Linked DNA regions of Homo sapiens. The protein of the gene in region 1 purifies or fractionates together with the protein of each later gene. This does not show direct contact. Each region holds a gene or a part of one and is shown on either strand. Other genes may lie near its edges.

Evidence for each region. Proteins that work in one complex are often made in the same cells at the same time.
Region 2: the proteins of ZNF467 (region 1) and PRP4K purify together in Homo sapiens (affinity purification with mass spectrometry; one large-scale study listed by BioGRID and IntAct). This does not show direct contact.
Region 3: the proteins of ZNF467 (region 1) and TFB1M purify together in Homo sapiens (affinity purification with mass spectrometry; one large-scale study listed by BioGRID and IntAct). This does not show direct contact.
Region 4: the proteins of ZNF467 (region 1) and ZFC3H1 purify together in Homo sapiens (affinity purification with mass spectrometry; one large-scale study listed by BioGRID and IntAct). This does not show direct contact.

Annotation. Positions count from the first base shown.
Region 1 is NC_000007.14:149,762,565-149,768,149, forward strand, and holds the end of ZNF467 (zinc finger protein 467), read right to left. Parts: intron 3,676-5,585; coding exon 2,150-3,675; 3' UTR 2,115-2,149; coding exon of another isoform or gene 1,936-2,114; 3' UTR 1,618-1,935; downstream 1-1,617. UniProt on the Homo sapiens protein: Transcription factor that promotes adipocyte differentiation and suppresses osteoblast differentiation in the bone marrow. Enhances the osteoclast-supporting ability of stromal cells.
Region 2 is NC_000006.12:4,062,392-4,066,548, reverse strand, and holds the end of PRP4K (serine/threonine-protein kinase PRP4 homolog), read right to left. Parts: 3' UTR 1,566-4,157; downstream 1-1,565. UniProt on the Homo sapiens protein: Serine/threonine kinase involved in spliceosomal assembly as well as mitosis and signaling regulation. Connects chromatin mediated regulation of transcription and pre-mRNA splicing.
Region 3 is NC_000006.12:155,303,420-155,307,984, forward strand, and holds part of TFB1M (dimethyladenosine transferase 1, mitochondrial), read right to left. Parts: intron 1-4,565. UniProt on the Homo sapiens protein: Mitochondrial methyltransferase which uses S-adenosyl methionine to dimethylate two highly conserved adjacent adenosine residues (A1583 and A1584) within the loop of helix 45 at the 3-prime end of 12S rRNA, thereby regulating the assembly or stability of the small subunit of the mitochondrial ribosome.
Region 4 is NC_000012.12:71,631,784-71,636,348, forward strand, and holds part of ZFC3H1 (zinc finger C3H1 domain-containing protein), read right to left. Parts: intron 3,798-4,565; coding exon 3,660-3,797; intron 3,043-3,659; coding exon 2,921-3,042; intron 2,522-2,920; coding exon 2,372-2,521; intron 1,656-2,371; coding exon 1,481-1,655; intron 1,235-1,480; coding exon 1,103-1,234; intron 732-1,102; coding exon 189-731; intron 105-188; coding exon 1-104. UniProt on the Homo sapiens protein: Subunit of the trimeric poly(A) tail exosome targeting (PAXT) complex, a complex that directs a subset of long and polyadenylated poly(A) RNAs for exosomal degradation. The RNA exosome is fundamental for the degradation of RNA in eukaryotic nuclei.

The DNA.
Region 1 (5,585 bases):
TTAGTCCAAAGAGGACAACTTCCACTCAGCTCCAGCCACCAGTTGCCAAACCTTTTGCTTTTTTCACAACAGAAGATGGAAGTCCAGATTTTTATGTGACATTTCAAGATATTTAAAATAACCTGGAGTCACCAACTCATTCTTGGCCACGAAACTTATAAACACGCCTGCATTCATGCATCCTCTGACAGGCCTCCCAGCCAACGCCCCTCCCTCACCTGTGTCCAGGTCTCATTGTCTCCTACCTTCTCTGGGATTTTGCTTTTGTAGTTCACCATTGTGATCTGAATTCTGACCCAGCTGCTCCTGATGCTGCTGTCACCGAGACTGGATTTGCTTGCAGCGACATCCAAAGGGTTTGGAAGCCCTTCGCCTAGGTGACCTCTCTCTAGCCTCCAGCGGCCTCCTCCTCCCTGAAGCGCGTCTTTCCTCGGCTCCTCTATCACCTCTACCTGGGGCTTTCCTGTCCAGTCCTTGCACCTGCACTCTCCAATCTTGTTTACAGGCCTCTCTCGGTGCCATCCCCTAATGTTGGTGTCCCAGAGGCTTCTGTCCCAGGCCCCCAATTTCTCACTCCACACTCAGTTCTTTGGGAAGATCATCCGCTCCCCCATAGCTTCAGAAGCACATGCGGATAGTTCTCAGCTGTATGTCTGCAGCCTGGCCCTCTCCTGAGCTCTCCACCCACACAGCCTCCTTCCTGCTGGGCACACACTGCTCACAACTCAGGAGACCCAGGACTACTCCCCCAGCACAAAGCTGCCCCCAACACCGAGTCTCCCTTCTGGGAGTATGCCACTGTCATCCAGTCAGTGTCAAACAGAAATCGGGCTGAGCTCATTGATTCCCCGACCCACACTAGTCAACAGGTCCTGTATCCTCTGCCTATTAAGTGTCTCTTGAATCCATCACTTCTCTGTCTCCTCTGACACAACTATGGTCCCAGGTCACCACAACCTGTCACCAGGACAACTGATGCGCAGGCCTCCAATTTCGCTCCCGAGTTGTCTAGCCAAACATCTTTCCAAACTTCAGGAATGTGAGCGTGGCCCTGTTCCTGCCCCGCCTAACCTTGCCATGGTTCCCCCTCCCTTGGACACGGTCTAAACTGCTTCACAGGTGTGAAAGACCCCTTCATCTCTCAGGCCACTGCTCTGGCCTCTCATCCCCGCTCACTGGGAAATGAATAATGCTGCGCTCCAAGTCCCACGAGAGGCAGAGGGGGGTCAAACCCAAGACTACTCACTGCAAGCTCCATAGGCTCCCCATCGTCCTACCCTCCCCGTTCACGGCCAGGCAGCCCTAGCTCTCATACCTGCGTGGGCTGGAGAAGGGCAATACAGAGACTTCTGGACCCAGCAGCCTTAAGAAAGGACTTGTTGCAAGTGCGATGTGAAAGCAACCTTCATCTGCAGTGGATGTGCCACCTCCTTCCTCACGCCACCGAGCTCCGAATCCCCCAGGAGAGTTGCGGAGACCACACAGAGCTCCCAAGCCCACGCCAAAGGACGGCCTGCCCCCCTTCAGCTCTAGTCGGTGACACGTGGCGTGAGAGAAATGCACCCCAATCTTCCTTCCTTATACTTCCGAGCTAGAAGCAGGAGCCAGGATGGTGGCTTAGTGAATAAATATATTACATTTTTATTTGGGAGAACCAATTAACAGCAGCTGGCTAAATGTAACTCACCCAGGACAGAAGGGGAAGTGGAGGGGGGTGGTCTGTGTGTGGATGGAGGTGGGACAGTGGCTAAGGAGAGTCAGGTGTTCCCTCCCCCAATTCATTTAGCAGCCCCAGAACTTTCCGATTTTAACTTTAATGAAACTTTAAGTACATAAATAACCACTCTTTCCTGCCCTGGTTGAGGCCGCGCTGGGTCCGGGAAATATCTGCTTTCCAACGGGGCACCTGGGTGGGAGCCTTCCAAGAACTTCAGCTCAGCGGTTCCCAGCAAGGGTTCGCTGAGTCTCTGTCCTAGGAGGTCCGAGCTGGGTATGCTGTGCGGACGCAGACACTGCGGGAAGGAAACAGGTGTCCCGCGGCGGCCAAACCTTCGGGCAGCAGCCCAGGTCGCCTTGCTCACCCCAGGCGGTCTCATGGCACGGGCCTCTCGAAACTGTGGGCAAGAAAGGGTCCTCGTGAGAACTAGGCTCAGAAGAAGAGCGGGGGCGGCGCCACCTCGGGGGGAGCGGACCAGGCTGGGGCCGCAAGGGCGGCGTCCGGGGCCGCGTGGGCGGCTTCGCCGTGAATGAGCTGGTGCCGCACCAGGTGGGTCTTGCGGCTGAAGCTCTTTCCGCACTGCGGGCAGGAGAAGGGGCGGGAGCCTGTGTGGATCGCCTGGTGGCGGACTAGGTTGGTTTTGGAGCTGAAGCTGCGGGCGCAGACGGCGCAGGCGTGGGGGCGGCTGCCAGTGTGCACCGCCTGGTGGCGGCCCAGGTGCGACTTGCGGCTGAAGCGGCGGCCGCACTGAGCGCAGGCGAAAGGCCTGGCGCCGCTGTGGGCCCTGGAGTGGGCGACCAGATTAGGCCGCGAGCCGAAGCGGCGGTCACACTGCGTGCAGGCGAAGGGCCGTTCGCCCGTGTGCACGCGCGGGTGCCGCGCCAGGTGCTGCCCATGGGAGAAGCCGCGCCCGCAGTCCGGGCAGAAGAAGGACCGCTCGCCCGAGGGGGCGCGCTGGGGCACCACGGGATCGGATCCTGGGCCGCAGCCCGGTCCGCCAGGCGCGCTGGCCAGGGGCTTGGCGGCGGGGGCATCCACGGTGGCGCCCAGTGCGCACTCATCGCACCCAAAGGGGCGACCCTCGCTGCGGTGCAGACACTGGTGCGTGGCGAGGTTCTTTTTCCAGCCGAAGCTCAAGCCGCAGTCGGAGCACGCGAAAGGCTTTGGCCCGGGAAAGGATGGGGTCGGGGACGGGGCAGTGGAATGAGGAGAAGCGGACGAGTCGGGAGAGGGCCTGGCCGGGCCGGCCGTCTGGTGCACCCTTTGGTGCCGCACCAAGTGCTGCTTGTGCGTGAAGCTGCGTGCGCACTGTGCGCACTGGTAGGGCCTCTCGCCCGTATGGATGCGCTGGTGCCGAATCAAGTGCGTCTTCTTGCGAAAGCGCTTCTCGCATTCCGTGCAGGGGAAGGGCCGCTCGCCGGTGTGGGTCTTTTGGTGCGAGCCCAGGTGGATCTTCTGGCTGAAGCGCTTGCCGCACTCCGCGCACGGGTAGGGCCGCTCGCCCGTGTGCGTGCGCAGGTGGCGGGTCAGATGGGCCTTCTTGCTGAAGCGCTTGTCGCACTCGGAGCACGGGAAAGGCCGCTCGCCGCGGTGGCTGCGCTGATGCAGTAGCATGTGGGCGCGCTGCGTGAAGCTGCGGCCGCAGTCCGGGCAGGCGCAGGGGCCCTCGCCCCGGTGCAGCCGCTGGTGCAGTCGCAACGTCAGCTGGTCCCGGAAGCGCCGCTCACACTCCCCGCAGCCGTAGGGCTTCTCCGGCATCGGACCCCACCCAGACAGCGCGAGCCCACTCAGTGCCCCCGGGGCCCCTGGCTCCAGTTTGTACGCGGCAGCCAGATGCCCCAGGTCAGGCGCGGGAAAGGGGCTGGGAAGTAACGATAGATGCTGGGGCCATTCGACCTCCTCTTCTGCCTCCTGATCTTCGTCCTCCACCTTCACCTTCCGAATCATCCACTCCTCTCCTGGAAAGTCAAAACAAGAATTGTCTATTGAGCTCCACGTGCGGCAACGTCTATTTAACCACAGGATCTCCACTTCCTGGAGCCCCGCGGTCTGGCTCTGCTCTCCACTCTACCTAACGCTTCCCGGGAGTGACCAAATCCGCAGCTCTTCTCAGGCCCCCTCCTGCATTCTCCTGAACCTGTGATGCGTGTGAACACCACACGGCTCCCGGGGGCTTCTTCCCCGGCCTGGATGTGCCCAGGAGCCCTCCAGCACCCCTGAAGAGGAAGGTTGCCCAAGTTTCAGTCCTCCTGCTTCGCTCCAGGTTCACATCCCTTTGGTGGCTGGCCCAGATCTTCCTGCTCCAGCAGTGCCTTTCTGGGACCTCAGTCTCCATCTCTGGTCCAGCAGCTCTCCTTGGTACTGCAAACTGGCCGCAGCTCAGCAGCTTTCTCACCACACACCTGAGCTTCCCAAACTGAGCCCTGGCTGACTTTAACCTTAGGACTAGAGCCTCCTTCCCTGGTGGCCTTGAAAACTTGATCTTTGACATCTCACCTGGGCTGCTTCTCTTGCTCTCTAACCCCTACCCCCAGCCCACCTTACCTCTAGTGGCCACGGAACCAGGGTACCCACGTATTCCTGCTACTCCCTTCTTTCCTGCTGGACAGCCTGAGGAGAAGTCCCATTTAGGAAGACCACGATGGAGTTTACAGGGTCTGGGGAACTAGTGAACACTGGCTCTGGAGAAACAGGGAAGGCCCTCTAGGGAAGCCTCAGCCTAAGGGCAGGTTGCAGGGGATTCCGCTGGAGTGTTGCCCCTGTCGGGTGCTGCAATGGTCCAGCCTAGAGGAAGGAGCCCGGGGTCCAGACGGGAGGGTCCAACTTAGGTTCTCCTCTGTCACTAACTAGGAGTGTGACTTTGGTTCAGTCACTTAACCTCTTTGAGTTACATTTCTTAGTCCGCTAAGAAAATTTGCCCTTTGTGTAAGAGTTGGACTAGTTTAAAGCTCCCACGCCTGTGCTGCATCATCAGCTCCTGGGAAACGTTGAGAAAATGCACAAATGGGGGCAAGGCCCACGAACGTGTTCTCATCTTTAAAGCTCCCAAAGTGATTCTCATTTGTGAATCATTTAAGCAGATAATTTGGGTTCCTGTCTGGCCTGAGCCTTGATTCCATCACACGTGGACTTCCACAATCAGAGGTACTCCCAGTTTCTTCTATCAGTCCATTGATTCCAGACCCCTGTCTACTTATCACACTGTGATACTGCTTTCACCTTCATTGTGGCACTCTTTACTTTTCTACTCAAGAACCATCAATAGCTCCTATTTATTTATTTTTAATTGAGTCAGGGTCTTGCTCTGTCTCCCAGGCTGGAGTGCAATGGGACGATAATGACTCATTGCAGCCTCAAACACCTGGGCCCAAGTGATCCTCTTACCTCAGCCTCCCAAGCAGCTGTGACTATGGGTGTGCACCAACATGCCCAGCTAATATTTCTTACTTTTTCAGAGATGGGGTCTCGCTGTGTTGCCCAGGCTGGTCTTGAAATCCTGGCCTCAAGCAGTTCTCCCACCCCAGCTTCCTGAGTCGCTGGGATTACAGGCATGAGCCACAGTGCCCAGCCCAGCACCCTATTATTTGAAGATAAAACAGGTTCTAGCTGCATCTGAGGCTCACCCCACCCTAGTCCAACTTTCTTTCTCCCAGGCATGGACCTTCCACTTCAGCCAAGCTGCTCTCCTCCCCTTTCCTGCTTCAAGATCTTCTCAGCCTAGAACGTCTTCCCATCCTCCACCCCACCCCTTTCAGAACTGAAGTCTACACCTTTCTTAAAATGCAGCACAAATTAATGTTTTTTGACAAATTCCCAGTGCATGCGGATCTTTTGGCATAAACTCCTATAGCACTTACTGTTAACACTT
Region 2 (4,157 bases), on another chromosome or scaffold:
TCTGTCGCTAGGCTGTCTAAATTCGAACCCAGACTCCTGCCACTGAACACCTAACACCTTTAGCAGTTTCCTTAACCTCTCTTGCTTCACTTTTCTGATGGGTAAAGTGGGTAGACTGTCTTTATCTCATATAATCATGTGCGGGTTAAATGACCAGCAGCAAAAGTGCCTGGCATATACAAGTATTCACAAAATACATTAGGGAAGTAAGAATGACACAGGAGGGCAAACCATCTCGAGAATGGACCTCCTTAGCACTAGTTAGGTGCAGAACAATAATTCCTAACAATGTCCTGTTTCTTGCAGGGCATGTGCCAAGGCACAGGGAAATGGTACGGTGCAACAGACACAAACCCTTTCAGTAAGACTAGGCGTGGGAATGGGCATGGGAGATGGGACTGAGACCAGAAGTGGCAAGTTTTGTAGGGATTAGAGATGTATCATCTCAAATTTATCCTGTAGACTGACAGGGGAAAAAGACCTGGTTCAAACAGGTGAAGTGGGACCCACTTGTCTACATATGTAGTGGACAAAACTGGAGACATGAATACAAAATATTTGGCTATTTTTCATACTTGGTGGAAGTCAACGCCCACCATTATCTTTAAATAAGAAAACATTTGGCAGTTTATAACACACATATAAATTCTGTTCGGGAAAACCTAGTTTGCTGATAAATACCCATGTTTAGCTCTCCAGTCATTGATGGTCCTCAGCTCACTGGATCTTCATGAGGTTGAATCTTTCTAATTAGAGAAAGTATGTGTGGCCGGGTGTGGTGGCTCATGCCTGTAATCCCAGCACTTTGGGAGGCTCAGGCGTGTGGATCACCTGAGGTCAGGAGGCGGAGGCGAGCTGTGATCGTGCCACTGCACTCCAGCCTGGCGATAGACGGCGAGTCCGTCTCAAAAAAAAGAAAAAAAGAAAGAAAAAAAGTATGTGTGAAAGGTCCTTAACCAATACATCCTGCATACTATTTTCCCTAAAATGTACCAGATACAATAACCTCATAGCCACTTTAGATAGTTATGCAGTCTAACAAAATTATAACTGGGGCCTTTACATGAAGACTATCCAGAGCCAGTGCCATTTGACCATTTCTCAGCCCAGAATCAAGCATACTAGCTTCTACCTGCCACTCTGCGGTGGTTAGCTCCAATGGGGTGGGTGGGTGCATTCTACAAGGCCATTCTGCCTGCCTTATCTGCTTTGCATGCACTAAGATTCACAAACTACACTGTGAATCTATTTTACTCACTGTTTTGAAAAGCCAAAAACAGTTCCTTAAAAGAAGAAAATAAAGAGTGGGTATACTGAGGATAAGAGCCCAAGATTTGTCAAGCTATCATGTGAGCAATGAACCAATTTATTTTTATCATTATAAAAACAGGAGTTGGCTCATTACTTATCTGTTTCCTTTACTAGGAAAACCAAAGCAGAAATGTATGTAACAGGAACACGAATATAATACACTCTTTGGTGTTGTGCACCTAATGCTTTGAAAATGTTTTGATGTTTGTGAGGAAAATCTGAACTCAACCAAAGAAAAAAACCAGGAGACAATATGATAATAAGAGGCATATTTTATTCAGTTTCCCAGTAAGTCAATTAGAAACATGCACTGCTAAAATGCAAGTTACAATTCAAATGGTACCATAAATAATTAGAGTACACACTGAGCATTTTCAGAAATCAGCTTCCATATCTTGATCACTAAATGGAAAGGTTCTTCAGAACAGTCCCTTACCCTATATACAGAAGGAGAAGAAAAATTAAGGATGCCATAATGACATCTATCAGAATAACTGGAAAACATTTTAATTTAGCATACATTATTGACATGTAAAAAACACAAATGAATTTGTCGTGAACATTTCTATAAGGAAGACATTCCATTAGGAGGAGAATGATAAAATTCATGTTGAATATATGCTGGAACTAGGATACTATTAAGAAAGAAACACATTTATGAAGCCCAATTGGTAAAGATGTCATTATAACTAAATGAGGAAAATTACATATTTGAATATATGGCTTTCTTTCCTATCTTCAACATTCAAAAGGGCCATTTCTTAACTACTTCGCCTAAATTTTATCATGTTGATTCCTTTGTTTCATCTCAGAGATTTTATTTCTACCCCATATAGCTAGAGTTCTGCTTACAAATGATAAAATACAGGTAAAGCATAAGAGGAATGCAAATATGGAACAAAACTGAGAACATTACATTTTACTTACTCTACCACATACCATAAAACAGTACATAAATATTTCATTTTGAAAAAAAAGTCCTGAGTACTTATTTTTGTTAGGAATAAAGTGGTACTTAATAATGGCAAAACATTTCTATTATTTTAAAACAAAATTTTGAGACAGTAGAGTGAAATGAGATAGCTATCAGGGAATGAAGAAAACAGGATGTATTAATAACGATTTAAGGGTGAATATAAGATGCTCCCCCTGCTCAAAACCTCGAAATTCCAACCTCATTTCTGATGATCTTCAAGAATAAAGTCTATCCAGAGTGTAAAAAATGTCTATGCTTTCCAGATCTCAACTATTCTCCCAACCCTAGAAAAAACTGTAACATCTTTGAGAGCCGTACCTAACACTTCTATGAGCCCTCAAGTCTGACAATCACTTGATATCACTTTTGCCATAAAGTATAATAAAAGCAAAAAATTCACGGCAGATAGCATTTGAAAAGCATACAGCTACTCTAAAAGAGGAATGCACATTTATTCAGGAGCATTCACTAAATAAATTCAATCTAGTAGGTCTTGCAGAGTTCCAAATTGCACCTCAGCAAAATTACAGAGTGTAGGAAAATCATGTAACGTACATAAGACAGTTGATAGGGTTCCTTTCAAATAGGTAGTCTAGATATGCTAAATTGGGGAGTATAAAAAACCCAGAGTATCTTTTTCATTTCCCTTAAAAAAAATGGCTCTGAATATTTTGTCTACTTTAAGACTGGAACACTGGTTAATAACGAGGTTTCTACAGGGTAAGTTGGGGAACAGATACTAAAGGAGTTGAACAGTATTCTTAATATTCCAGTTTGTATTCTTTTGCATCTGCCTAAAGCTGAAGACTACTTTCAGATATATGCTATTCTGGTGGTTGCTGTTTTTCTAAGAATCCTTAACATCCAATTTTGACAACCATGTGTTATGTGGAATCTCAGCATCCAGCAGCCTTTTATATTACTAAAGTTGACCACTATTTTTATTTTAGGGGAGGAGAAACTGGGGGAGGGGAGAGGCAGGAAGTATGATAAAACAAGCACTTTACAGACGCACTCCACAACAGCACTAATTCTAAATACCAAACACCAATAAAACCCAAATCATAATGCTGAAAACTAAAAAATTAGACAAAAAATAAATGAAGGATTGTTTTTTAATAAATCTTTTATAGGACAGAAACCTTAGCTCATGTCTTCTGGTTGTCATCATCTTCCACTGAGCTGCACCTAAAACACAAAGAACAAGTAACAAGCAACTTTGTTTTTTAAAGAACAGGTAACAGTTTTGAAGGTATAAGATGAACTGTTTCTAGTGGAACTTACTTAAAAAATTACATAAAATGAAGCCATAAACATCACCAGAAGCATCAAATTGTCAACTACTTTGGGTGAAAATAACTACAAGAGACTTGAATATGCAGCATATTATCACCGAAATAAATAATGGTGGGAAAATCACTACCCATTTCATTAAGGTAGAATAGCTGCACCTGTGACGCCTTAATTAAAAGGCTTCACTCTACCTGAAGATGAAAATCACCTTGTATTTATTTTAGTAAGTCTAAACCGTGAAGAGACGGGGTGTAGGTTCAGAGGTGGCTTATTATATCATCTATCACCTTCCTGGCTGTAGTTCATTTCATGTCTTTAAATGGAGCAAAACCCACCAGAAGAATCAATGCTGCTATTCTGATTTTCCATTCTTGAATGCACCAAAATGTGCATGCTTGTTGTAATTAGGTGCCTGGGTGAATAAAAAAATCCCATTTACAATTTAAAAATATTATTTAAACCCCTAAAATCTGATTATTTTCCATATTCCTCAGGGAGACAAGCATTAATTTTACCCCCCAAACAGCAAAGATTACATATATTTCTGAAAAATTCTCTTCTACCATGTTAATAATAC
Region 3 (4,565 bases), on another chromosome or scaffold:
TACTTCTTACAGTTGTCAGTGGGCCTGCTTCTACCACTGATCTCCGTACTTATACTTTGTATGGACTAAAAAGTCACTTTGGCTGTAAGCCACTTTTTGCTTACTTGTTGAGTTTTGTCTATGTTATGATTAACTATGGTAACATCAAGTAAGTTACATGTGTAAAGTAAATAGTTACGTCACAATAGCAAGGAAGGCAATCTTCCTTTTTAAAAAAATTGTTAGAGATTAAAGAATTTCAAAACTTCATTATCTCTAACTAAAAATAGCTCTTTCTGCCTGGACGCTGAAATTACCTCATATGTCTCTTAATAAGATGACTGGAAGGGGAATAATTAAAATAGCAACTATTACTGGCTACTGGGATTATGCCAGGCTCTTTACATCCATTTCTATCCATCTTTGCAATATCCACAGAAGAGAACTATTATTCCCATGCTGCAGATGAGAAAGTTGAAGCTAAAAAAGGTTTAACAGCAAGCTTAAGGTCACAAAGCTAGTAGGTGGCATATCTGAGATTTGGTCACTAGACTATTTGATGCTCAATCCCATGAACTTTCCACTATGCCAATGAAGTATGGAAATAACCAGTGTTTACCTATAAGAAAACCCAAAGGTTAGGAGGCCAAGGCAGGTGAATCACCTGAGTTCAGGAGTTCGAGACCAGCCTGGACAACATGATGAAACCCAGTCTCTATTAAAAATACAAAAAATTAGCTGGGCATGGTAGCGGGCGCCTGTAATTCCAGCTACTCGTCAGGCTGAGGCAGGAGAATCGCTTGAGCCTGGGAGGTGGAGCTTGCAGTGAGCCGAGATCACGCCACTGCACTCCAGCCTGGGCACCAGGAGCGAAACTCTTGTCTCAAAAAACAAACAAACAAAAAACCAAAGGCAATACTAACAATACAATGACTTACTTTCTCTCTCCAAAAATTCCTCAAAACAACCACATAATTTAATGGTTAAGAAGAATCCTGAAACTTCCTACTCCGACAAAGATGGAGTCTAAGGGACCAGGCATATTCTCCTACCTTAAACCAATTTAAAAAACAGAGAAAATAGATGAAACAAAATTTTCAGACATTAGACAACAAAAAGCACAGGAAAACCTACAGATCCAAGAAGCTCAATGAATTCTACACACAAGAAACACGAACAAAGCTACTGTAAGCACATCATGATGAAATTGCTCAAAAACAGTAGAAAGTATCAAAAGCAGCCAGAGAAAAAAGAACAAAGGTAAGGATGAAAAAAGATTTGTCAGAAACTTTTTGCAATGCAAAAAGTTTGTCAGAAACAATGCAAGTGAGAAAATGGCGGAGCAACTTTTTTAGAGTAATAAAACAAAATACTGCCACAATATTTTCCAAAAATGAAGGCAAAAATGAAGGCTTTTTCAGTCTTCAGTCTATAGTAATAAATACAGGTGGCTGTTGGTGAAACAATAGACCTATAGATAAATAGAACAGAATTGGAAGTTCAGAAATAAACCGACACACATAAAACCAACTGATTTTTGACAATAGTACTAAGGCAATTCAATGAGGAAAAGACAGTATTTTCAAAAAATGGTGTTAAAAAAAGAACCTAAACCTTACCTCACACTATATGCAAGAATTAGCTCAAAATGTATCAAAGACCTAAATGTAAAAGCTAAAATTATAAAATAATTTTATATTATTTATATATTATATATTTATATATATACATAATTATATATTTATATATATAAATATATATTAAATTATATATTTATATATATATTAAATTATATATTTATATATATATTAAATTATATATTTATATATATATATTAAATTATATATTTATATATATATTAAATTATATATTTATATATATATATTAAATTATATATTTATATATATAAACATATATTAAATTATATATTTATATATATAAATATATATTAAATTGTATATTTATATATATAAATATATATTAAATTGTATATTTATATATATAAATATATTATTAAATTATATATTTATATATATAAATATATATTAAATTATATATTTATATATATAAATATATATTAAATTATATATATAAATATATATTAAATTATATATTTATATATATATTAAATTATATATTTATATATATAAATATATATTAAATTATATATTTATATATATATTAAATTATATATTTATATATAAATATATATATATTAAATTATATATTTATATATATAAATATATATTAAATTATATATTTATATATATAAATATATATTAAATTATATATTTATATATAAATATATATTAAATTATATATTTATATATATATTAAATTATATATTTATATATATAAATATATATTAAATTATATATAAATAAAACAAATTTTTAGTGATCTTGGTTTGGCAAATATTTTAAAAATAAGACATAAAAAGCATAAAGTCTAGAAGAAAAAACTGATAAATTGCACTTCATAAACATGAAACTTCTGTTCTTCAAAGACATTGTTAAGAAAATAAAAAGGTAAGCCACAGCTGAGAAAACATTTGTAAAATCTGTATCTGACAAAGCCTCACATCTGAACCATATAAATATCTCTTAAAATTCAATAAGACAAAAAAAGTAAAAGTACTAAAAATATTTGAACAAATAATTCCCCAAAGAAGATACAAAGATGGCAAATAAGCACATCGTATGTCCAGTATTATTATCTATTAGGGAAATGCAAATAAAAACCACAAGAGGATACCATTACATATTCACTAGGATGGCTAAAATTAAAAAGACTGACCATACCAAGTCTGAGCAAGCATGTGGAGCAATGGGAGCTCTGAAATACAGCTGGTGGGAATGTAATATGGCACAGTCATCTTATAAAACAATTTGGTATTTCTGTAAAAAGTATAATATACGTCTACCACAGGACCCGGATATTCTACACAGGACCCGGATATTCTACTCCTAGGTCTTTACTCAAGAGAAATGGAAGTGTGTATCCACACAAACACTTGCATATGAATGTTCATAAAAGCTTTATTACAGTATAAGAGCCAAAAAAGGGAAAAACCCAAAGTCTATCAACAGGTGAATAGATTCACAAATTTGGTATATTCAGAAAATGGAATGCTATTCAGCAATAAAAAGGAGCAAACTACTGATAAACACCTCAACATGGATGAACTGCAAAATAATTATGCTAAGTAAAAGATACCAGACCAAAAAAAAAGTACATATTGTATGATTCCATTTATATAAAATTCTGAAAAATAAAAAATAATCTACAGTGACAGCAGATTAGTGGTTGTCTGAGATAGATAAAGGGGGAAGGAAGGGACAGATTACAAAGAAACATGAGGAATCCTGAGGACGATGAGTGTTTATTTTCTTGATTGTGATAATGGTTTCATGCAATCACATATATGTCAAAACTCAGTTAACTGGACGCGGTGGCTCTTGCCTGTAATCCCAGCATCTTGGGAGACTGAGGTGGGCAGATTGCTTAAGCCCGGGAGTTTGAGACCACCATGTAGAAATGGTGAAATCCCATTTCTACAAAAAAATACAAAACTCAGCCAGGCATGGTGGTGTGCACCTGTAGTTCCACCTACTCAAGAGGCTGAAGTGGGAGGATTGCTTGAGCCCAGGAGGTCAAGGCTGCAGTGAGCTGTTGAGTTGTGCTTGTGTCACTGCACTCCAGCCTGGGTGACAGAGTGAGACCATGTCTCAAACACATACACACACACACACACACACACACACACACATATACACACAGACAAATCCTCAGTAATTTGTACACTTTAAGTATGTGCAGTTTACTGAGCATCAACTGTATCTCAACAAAGCTGTAAAACAAAGTGTATTAGCTCGTTTTCATGCTGCTGCTCATAAAGACATTCCCGAGACTGGGCAATTTACAAAAGAGGTTTAGACTCACAGTTCCACATGGCTGGGGGAGGCCTCACAATCATGACGGAAGGCAAGTAGGAGCAAGTCACATCCTACGTGGATGGCAACAGGCAAAGAGAGAGCTTGTGCAGGTAAACTCCCATTTTTAAAACCATCAGATCTTGTGAGACCCATCCACTATCATGAGAACAGCACAGGAAAGACCCACCCCCATGATTCAATCATCTCCCACTGAGTCCCTCCCACAACACATGGGAATTACGGGAGCTACAAGAGGAGATTTGGGTGAGGACACAGAGCCAAACCATATCACAAAGTATTTACTGTGATAAACTCTCCATAAATATTAGCTATTATTATTTTTAATATATGAAGCCTTTAAAACAGTGCTGTGCAATTGCAATCTTTTGGCTTCCCTCGGCCACACTGGAAGAAGAACTGTCCTGGGCCACACATAAAATACACTAACGATAGCAGATGAGCTTAAAAAAAATGCAAAACAAATTTCATAATGTTTTAAGAAAGTTTAAGAATTTGTGTTGGGCCGCAGGCAGCCCGTGGGCCGTGTGTTGCACAGGTTTGCTCTAAAATAAACAGAAAAAAAAAAAAAATGAGAGGAAATCTGTACTACTTCTCTGAAAGGGTACGAGTGATTTACGAATTTATCTCCAG
Region 4 (4,565 bases), on another chromosome or scaffold:
GACTTAAAAACTAGAAGAGGACTATGGTAGGGTCTAAAAGGACATGGCTTCACTTCCATTGTTTTACTTTGTGCTGTGACAAAATCCACATCTACAGAAATCTCCTGCAAAAGAAAATAATAATTCTGTAAGGCAAATAAGGCTGGGTGAATTCCAGATTTTAAAGAAAATATGAAATGTTCAGTTACCTGACCATGCAAAACCTTCTCTGTAATGCCTGTGGTGGTTTTTAAAATCAGCTGTTTTAGGCTGTCAGCTTTTGAATACAATTTTTGCAATTCACCAATTTTTAACCCTAGAAAAAGTTCTGGTTTTTCTACAGTATTTTTATTAAGTTTGTTTATGCATTCTTTGTTAGCAGTATCAGTGTGCTTAAGGTTAGGTTTAGTAAAATAATTGGATTCTAAAAAAGATCTTCTTCGCTCTCTGCTTGAACCAGACAAAATTTCATCATCAACATCATTTTCTTCAGTGTCCAGGGTTAATTTATCTTGTGTCAGATCATGAAGTGAGGGTTGAGGTAAAGAAAATTCGGGTTCCTCTTCCACAACTGGAGAGATATTTTGTTGTTCCTTTGCTTTAAGGGCACGGGCTTCTTTTAATTTTTGAATTTTCAGGGCATATTCATATTCTAGCTTTTGTAACCGTCTTTTCTCCATAGCAATTAGTTCTGCTGAATGCTTTCTTGGACTTGATACTGGAGAACTGTCCAGTCTCATCATTTTGTTTGGCTAAGGGAGAAAAATGATACACGTATTTTACATCACTGTGATTTTATAAACAATTTTTGGTAAGATAATTGTGCTATCCCCACCATACAATGCCAACATTATAAAACTAAATCAATATGGAGAATAAAACAGAGTTTAACATAAGTAGCCAAAAGTTTTGCTAGTTAATCTATGACTTATGACAAAAACAAAGTCAAGACAAAATAATAAAGTAGACATCCAAAAATGTGGATGTCATTTAAAAACAAAGCTTTAATCTTAATCTCTTGGAATTTACAGCAAAGAGTTACTTTATATATACATCTTACCCTTAAAACTATCATAAAAACTTTCTGCTTTCCAAAAGTAAAATATTTCTATAAAACCCTCACCCCAAAGCGATCTTGTTCCAGTTTACGTTTTCCTATTTCTTTACTGGCCACTGCCTTTGCCCGAGCAAGCTCTTCTCCATATTTTAGAGTCAAAGCTTTCTTAATTGTAACACGCTGTTGAACTCTGTGAATCTGAAAAATATAGAATAATCCTGAAAATGTAAATGAAAACCTTAAAACAGGAAATTTCTTCTTCTCAAACACCGTGGCTTTTGAGCATTCAACTGAAAATAAAAATATTCCAATATTATTTCTCAACAAGAAACTATAGGTTATGCATATTTTGCTGGCTTTAGTATACAGTGGTTTGTCTTACAGAAAATTTGGCCTATAAAAATGTGTAGTAAACAGGAGACTACAGTATTTTAAAATAATTACTTGTTCCTGAAGCTTCTTCAAAAACATTCTGTTAACATTAAGAATTTTTTCAGTTGCTTGAAGCTGTTCTGTAAGTTTTGTAATCTTTGCTTCAGCATTTCTAACAGATTCTTTCTTCTTAGCTTCTTGTTGCACTAAATTCTTTAAAACAGATTCATCTTTCATCAAGAGAATCCTAAATGAGAAATAACAAAATTCTTGTTAATGTTTCCCTACAAGAGCAGACTGTCAGAATAAAAAAATTTTCAAAGTAATAACACAATTTTTAAAAATGCATCTACGAGACACAGATAAAAATGTAAAGGGATGAATATTTTTATATTCATCACACAGGTATTTAAATTAACATTGCTACACTGATAATAGTAACTATGAGACTGATCTTTTAAAAAAAAAAATTTAAGCCTGAGGTAACGTGAATTACTGTTGAAAACTTGTAGTAAATATTCAACGTTGGGCCAGGCACAGTGGGAATGCATTTCCCTAGTTCAAGCGATTCTCCCGCCTCAGCCTCCCAAGTAGCTGGGATTACAAGGCATGCACCACCATGCCCAGCTAATTTTTTTGTATTTTTAGTAGAGACAGGGTTTCACCGTGTTGGCCAGGCTAGTCTCAAACTCCTGATCTCAAGTGATCCACCCACCTCGGCCTCTCAAATTGCTATGATTATAGGCGTGAGCCACCGCGCCTGGCCGGTATTTTTATTTAAACATTAATTTCATTACTTTATGTAAATGTAGTGTCATTCAACAAAATGACAGACTTCTACATTCTACAAAGTTTAAGTGAGAAAATGTATAATCTTATAGTACGCTTATTAATAACATACACCACAAAAATGTATTTCTCTACCACAGGAACAATTAGATATGTGAAGATAACAAGGCTCACCTATGTTTTTTCAGTTTTGATTCTGCATCTGTAACCTGCTTAGTAACCATTGCTATCCTGCCAATACCATCAATTTCCACATCAGAGTTTGCTGGGGATGATGAACTTGTCTTCAGCTGATCTGATTTAATCAAACGCTGTTTCTCACGGCTAAAATTATCAAAAAGGATATATGCATTACACCCAAGAATAAACTTAAACTATTTTTAAAATGTATTCTATTTCATGCAGTAACAATATTAATCACACCGACTAATAATAAAGATGATGACCAATATGCAAGACCCAAGTCAGCATTCAAAGTTGATAGTGGAGTCCTTCTCTTTGAGTGTTTTCATCTTTTTTCTAAGCTGGTTATGTCCTAGCACATCACTCTATTCAAGTGTATGTATGACCATCCAGCACCATCTTCTGTGTGAGTTATAAAACATTAACTCTGTATCTTGGATAAAACTATCATCACTCATTCCCCAGTGCCAAGAAACTCTATAAGAGAAGTTTTGAAAACATCACATACTTTTAATGTTAATTACATAAAATTACACTTACTTGGCAATCTCTTCCTTTAACAATCTATATTCAATCTTCTTTTCTTCAGGCAAAGCCTCCGGTGTTCGCAGAGGATCATTTTCTTTTTCAGATTTTGGAGGTACTTTCGGTTTTGAAGCTTGCTAAAAAAAAAAAAACATTTGAAGTCAACTAGATCATCAGCTTTCCAAAATTCCATACTAAGATTTATATTTTACATTGCAACCCAGTGTATACTGAATTTATTTAGAAATACCTGAATGTCATCATTTTCTATTCTTTTTTCTAAAACAATGTTGGTTGATAACTACTAAATTGTATACGCCACCAAGTAGTGAAGATCTACAGTCTGAAAATCATTGAATTAAATCACAGCTAAACAACTACTGAAATAGGGAAAAAACGATAAAAGTTGTACTTAGAGAATACATTTTAATAAAAACTGTTTTCTGGTAACACAACACAACTCTAAAACAACAGTCTCCTTACTACACAGAACAATTATCCAACCAATTTTACTATTTTGAAAAAGGAAATACTTAATAGGAAACACAAATAATGGAAACTTTTAATAGTAAAATCAATCTACATTGATACATGCTTCATTATATAAAGTCCTAATAGCACAAATACTTAAAATATTTCCACAAATCAATGTTATTAAAAATCTATAACTTTATGGTTTAATTTTCAGGAAAAAATAAACTTTACTGATCATCAAAAGGTCATCTTTCTTTCCACCTTTAATTATTGCACTTACCTCAGCAGTTCGTCTTGCTTCTTTAATCATGGACTCTAATCCACCAAAAACACTATTTGTTGACTTGGAAGCCTCTCCATCAGATTCACTATCATCTGAATCATTTAGTGTTACAACCACTGATTTATGCTTTGGAAGCTGCAAAGACAATATATTTATTACTCGTGATAACAAAAGGATGTCATTTAACCTTGTTCAATTTCAATCCACAAAAATAATGGGCTCCAAGTAGACAGTCTATGGCTCCTTCTAGGGTTGTATTACATAATCCACTGAGTCGACCAATACTGGTTATATGACTGAGACATAAAATGTTGTATATTCTTTAAGACTTTCTATTCTATAATTACTCTCATTAAAATTTTATTTTCACTAACTTTCTATTATAAAGAACCACAATGCAATTTAAATTAACTCTTTTAAAACCAAAGAAAAATTTTGTTAATTTTACATAATAATTATCAAAATTCTGTACTTTGTGGTTACATATAGAGGGTAAATTGCCAAAACTGGCTTACCTAACAGGAAAGATTTCAACTTGTCTTTGTTCTATTTATTTTACTTTGAAGCCATTACAAAACAAGGTAGAAACAAACTATCATTTCAACCTCCTTAATAAACATCATAAATAATTTCTTCCATCATAGTGTAGTCATTGGTTGGAAAACATACACAAAGTATACAAAGAGATGGGAGAAATAAAAAACATGCAATTTGTTAAAATTTTGACTCCAAAAAGATAGAAAATCTGAATGAGCCCATTTCTATAGAAAAAAAGCTGAAGAAATGTCAGAGGAAAGTACACCACTCTGATGAAAACAATACCTCCCCCAACACACTATCACCAAACTCTTACCAGTTTTCAAGTGAAGGTGTTGCTCTCATTTTATCATTAATAAATTAAAA